Linked DNA regions of Homo sapiens: region 2 is linked to region 1. Evidence: fine-mapped expression QTL. Tissue or cell type: whole blood. Region 1 holds a variant in brackets; the other region holds the start of a gene. All regions are shown on one strand. Distances are from middle to middle.

Evidence for each region. PIP is the estimated chance that this variant, and not a neighbour inherited with it, causes the effect.
Region 2: PRRG4 starts here. The variant in region 1 is fine-mapped to the expression of PRRG4 in whole blood (INTERVAL, PIP above 0.99).

Annotation. Positions count from the first base shown.
Region 1 is chr11:32,622,120-32,624,879 of GRCh38, forward strand. The region is part of intron 14 of CCDC73 (coiled-coil domain containing 73); the gene reads right to left. Among named protein-coding and RNA genes, the nearest start is that of EIF3M, 40 kb to the left of the region's middle. The variant T/C (reference allele first, on the strand shown) is at 1,642.
Region 2 is chr11:32,828,278-32,830,906 of GRCh38, forward strand. It overlaps PRRG4 (proline rich and Gla domain 4), which reads left to right and starts at 1,650. Exons shown (of 6, transcript NM_024081.6): 1 at 1,650-1,896; 2 at 2,231-2,355. The coding sequence starts at 2,253. It also overlaps a transcript of CCDC73 not described here. RefSeq lists a silencer at 1,427-1,806 and enhancers at 2,227-2,276, 2,287-2,346.

The DNA of each region.
Region 1 (2,760 bases):
AGAACCAGAAATACCATTTGACTCAGCAATTCCATTACTGGGTATATACACAAAGGAATATGTTATTCTGTTATAAAGATACATGCACACATACGTTTATTGCAGCACTATTCGCAATAGCAAAGACACGGAACCAGTCCAAATGTCCATCAATGATAGACCGGATAAAGAAAATGTGGTGGATATACACCATGTAATACAATGCAGCCATAAAAAGGAATGAGATCATGTCCTTTATAAGGACATAGATGAAACTAGAAGCCATCATCCTCAGCAAACTAACACAGGAACAGAAAACCAAATACCGCATGTTCTTATTCATAAGTGCGAGTTGAACAATGAGAACACATGGACACAGGAAGGGGAACAACACACACTGGGGCCTGTCCGGGTGGGGGGCAGCAAGGGGAGGGAGAGCATCAGGACAAATAGCTAATGCATGCGGGGCTTAAAACCTAGGTGTTGATAGGTGCAGCAAACCACCATGGCACACGTATAACTATGTAACAAACCTGCACATTCTCCACATGTATCATGGAACTTAAATAAAATTGAAAAAAAAAAAAAAGAAAGAATGAACCTCTAGGACACAGCTCACTTGGGCGGGGTGGGGGGGAATGGTGTAAAGATTAAATTATATATATAATACACACAGTGCATAGGTGCTCAATTAATGGTATAACTATTATAATAGTTATTATTCTTACCACCATAAAAAAAGTGGCCTGAGAGGTAAAGAAAAAAAATCAGATGAACGAAATATAATAGAAGAAAAGGAAAAGATAACTCAAGCAAGAAATAGTATCAAATGCTTCAAAGGGACTGAAAAGTGTAATATCCAAAGGGAATGGATGTAATGTCCATTTTATTTTATTTTATTTTATTTTTTAATTTATTTTTATTTTTTGAGATGGAGTTTCGCTCTTTCACCCAGGCTGGAGTGCAGTGGTGTGATCTCAGCTCATTGTAACCTCTGCCTTCCGGTTTCAAGTGATTCTCCTGCCTCAGCCTCCTGAGTAGCTGGGATTACAGGCATGCCCCCACATGTGGCTGATTTTTGTATTTTTAGTAGAGACAGGGTTTCACCATGTTGGCCAGGCTGCTCTTGAACTCCTGACCTTGTGATCCACCTGCCTCGAGCTTTCAAAGTGCTGAGATTACAGGCGTGAGCCACTATGCCTGGCCATAATATCCATTTTATGGAGCAGAGGGGCAAAGCCAGACTGCCCTATGTTTTTGTTTGTTTATTTGTTTTGTGACAGGGTCTCCCTCAGTCCTCCAGACTGGAGTGCATTGGTGTGATCATGGCTCATGGTAGTCTCAGCTTCCCAGGTTCAAGTGCTCCTCTTACCTCCCTAGTAGCTGGGACCACCAGTGTGCACCGCCATGCCCCGCTAATTTTTAAAAAAATTTTGTAGAGACAAGGGTCTCACTATGTTCTCCAGACAGGTCTTGAACTCCTGCACTCAAGCAATTCACCTGCCTTGGCCCCCAAAAGTGCTGGAATTACATGCATGAGCCACCATGCCCAGCCCAGATTGCCCTATGTTGAAGGATGAATGGGAAGTAAGAAAGCAAAAAGTATGAGTTTAAACCAATCTTTCAAGAAACTTGGCTCTACAAAGAAGACTTTACTTAGGG[T/C]ATTTGGAAATGGGTGTGAGATCAAAAAGTTTTTTTGTTATTTGTTTACTTTTTAAAATGGGAGGGGCTTAAGCATGTTTAATTGCAAATGGGAATATATAAACTAAAACAAAAGGAATATAACTGATAAACATATAAAATATGTTTAATAAAACAAAAATGCAAAGTACAGCTGACAAAGTATTAAGAAGGCTAGAGAAGACAGGTACTCATACATGGCTGGTAGGACTATAAACTGGTACAACATTTCCGGAAAGCAATCTGACAATATGTGTCAAAAATTATAAGTGAGAGGGCCGGGCGCAGTGGCTCAAGTCTGTAATCCCAGCATTTTGGGAGGCTGTGGGCAGATCACAAGGTCAGGAGATCGAGACCATCCTGTCTAATAAGGTGAAACCCCATATCTACTAAAATACAAAAAAAAAAAAAATTAACCAGGTGTGGTGGCACATGCCTGTAGTCCCAGCTACCCGGGAGGCTGAGGCAGGAGAATTGCTTGAACCCAGGAGGCGGAGGTTGCAGTAAGCCGAGATGATGCTGTTACACTCCAGCCTGAGAGCAAGACTCCATCTCCAAATAAAAAATAAAAAAATAAATAAATAAATAAATTATAAGTGAGAAAGCTCTTTGACCCAGCAATACCATTTCTTGAAGTTTATCCTAAAGAAATAGTCACAAACATACACAAAGATATTTGTACAAGGATGCCCAATAGGGAAGTGGACAGATTAATTATGGCACGTCCTAGTCACACAATGGAAATTGTGATGTAGATCTATTTTTACGGACTTAGAAAGATATCCACTATTTAGTAAAATTTTTTAGCAGTTCCTCAAAAAGTTAAATATAGAATTACCATTCCTCAAGGATCTAGAACTAGAAATACCATTTGACCCAGCAATTCCATTACTAGGTATATACCCAAAGGATTATAAATCATGCTACTATAAAGATACGTGCACACGTATGTTTGTTGTGGCACTATTCACAATAGCAAAGACTTGGAACAAACCCAGATGTCCATCAATGACAGATGACAGACTGGATTAAGAAAATGTGGCACATATATACCATGGAATACTATGCAGCCATTAAAAAGGAGGAGTTCTTGTCCTTTGT
Region 2 (2,629 bases), 210 kb after region 1:
GTAGGTGGATCACCTGAGGTCAGGAGTTTGAGAACAACCTGGCCAACATGGTGAAAACCCCTCTCTCCTAAATGTACAAAAAATTAGCCGGGCGTGGTGGTGGATGCCTGTAATCCCAGCTACTCGGAAGGCTGAGGCAGGAGAATCGCTTGAACCCAGGAGGCGAAGGTTACAGTAAGCCAAGATTGTGCCACTGTACTCCAGCCTGGGTGACAGAGCAAGACTCTGTCTCAAGAAAAAAAAAAAAAAAATGAAGGGGGAAAAAATGTTTCCCTTGGTCCCCAGCAAGTGCCAGACCACTTCGACCAAAGCATAAATAGTGTTTCAAAGAACTGTTAAGCACGTTCTTTGGATAAAGAAGGATGTGACCATCACCTGGCATAGGTACTCTGTCCACCTGCTGCCTTCATTACTTGATGCAGCAGTTTTTGAAGTCTTTAATCAAGACCTTTTTACGCTCTTTTACATTATCAAGGACCCCAAAGAGCTTTCACTTATGTGAATTTTATCTAATGATATTTATTATCTAACATTAAAACTGAGAAATTTTCAAAATATTATTTGAAATCAAGACAACAAAGCTTACTTTTTGTTATGTTTATGCATAGACTCAAGGAAAAGATCAAGATTTCAAGATAATTACTTCAGAAAAATGAGGTTATAGCTATCCTAGTAGATATGAACAAATAGAACTAATCAAAGTACAAAAGCAGTAGCCAAGAGAGTTGGTGGACACCTGTAGTCCCAGCTACTCTGGAGGATGAGACAGGAGGATCTCTTGAGCCCAGGAGTTCCTGGGCAACAAAGTGAGACCCCCTACTCTGAAAAAGAAAAAAGGAAAGAAAAAAAATTAAGTTCACAAGTACTGAGAACAAATTTTATTAATCTCTATAAATCTACATAAATCTCTATAAAATGTACATACTGATAATGTAAACATACTACTATGGAAAATACCAGAAAATACAAGCACGCTCACTCAGGTATTCTATTAGGAGACAGAATGATGACGTTATTACACTTCAAATAGCCCCTGGAAATTTCCACTGTACACTCTTGAGAGAATGAAAGTGAAAATGGCAAATCATTTATTGTTACTATAATGGAAATAGTTTTGCCCTCAGAGACCCCTGGAAAAGATCTTGGAGACATCCCAGACCTGGCGGACCACCATTGGAGAACCAATGTAATCAATTACTTGTAAGGTCATTTCCATTTCTTATCACGAATAAAGGGTATTTTGTCTGATGAATATCTTGTCCTCGTCCCCGGACCACCCTTTTGAGAACAGTTGACCTAAGGTAACCACAGGACTCCTGGCCCAGTGGGACCCAAAGCGAAAAGCCCTGGACGCGCCGAGGGCGCTCTGCTTAAGACTGAGAACCGAAATGCTTCCTGAATTAGGATCATTGAGAACGCCGAGTGCAGACACAAATCGAAAAGCAGCCACCCGCGCCGCCAAGGCGGGGCCAGAACTGGCGGCAGGCGGCTGGCCCGCCCGGGGATGGGGCAGAAGCTGGGGCGGCTGAGAGCGCAGCGCGGGCTCCCGGGAGACGCCGGCCCACTGCCCGCCCGCTCGCCGCAGGTAGGCCCGGCCCCCGGGAGGTGGGGCGCGGCCAGGTGTCCCCAGGTAGCCGCCTCCTCCCGTCCTCCGTCGGCCGCCTCCCCGGACCGAGGCAGGACCTCACCCCGCGCGTGTTCCCCGGGCGCCCCTCTGCGAACCCCAGGCCCTTCCCAGGTTTGCGCGCGGGGGCCATCCAGACCCTGCGGAGAGCGAGGCCCGGAGCGTCGCCGAGGTTTGAGGGCGCCGGAGACCGAGGGCCTGGCGGCCGAAGGAACCGCCCCAAGAAGAGCCTCTGGCCCGGGGGCTGCTGGAACATGTGCGGGGGGACACAGGTACGAGGCCTGGCGGCAGGACCTCGGCGGGGAGGGGGTTACCTGGAAGGGGCCACCTCGGCGGACTGGGTTGGATTCGAACACATAGCGAGGGTTGCCCGCGGCGACAGGTGCCCGATCAGCCCTCGGCAGGGTCACTGGGCACGGCGTTTGTCCCAGGCGCTCTCAGGGGCTGCTTCCTGGGCGCGCGTCGGGTTCCGGCGACCGAAACCGCGCGCCGGGCGCTCTTGCGCCTAGGCTTTGAGTACAACAGGTTGGTGATTCAGTTCGACAGAAACTCAAAGTGCTGAGCTAGGGGCCTTTTTTTTTTAATATTTTTTTTTGTTTGTTTTAGTTTGTTTGACAGTTGCCAGACTATGTTTACGCTTCTGGTTCTACTCAGCCAACTGCCCACAGTTACCCTGGGGTTTCCTCATTGCGCAAGAGGTCCAAAGGCTTCTAAGCATGCGGGAGAAGAAGGTAAGCACTAAAACGTCCCTGGAACCCAGAGCCGCATAGCACAGATCTCAGTGAGAAAGTGCAGTATTTGAAATTACATACCCCCAGCAATCATAGAAACACTAAAATATCCTTTAGTTTAATTTGTGGCATATTTGGCAAGGTTGTGTTTTTTTATGTTCTTTAACTGCAATTTATAGAATTTGATGTCTGTGAGTCTCCTTTAATAAGTATATACGTAAGACCTAGTTTGTGGTTAATTGAATGGAAAACCTATTTCAGCTTCTGAAAATCA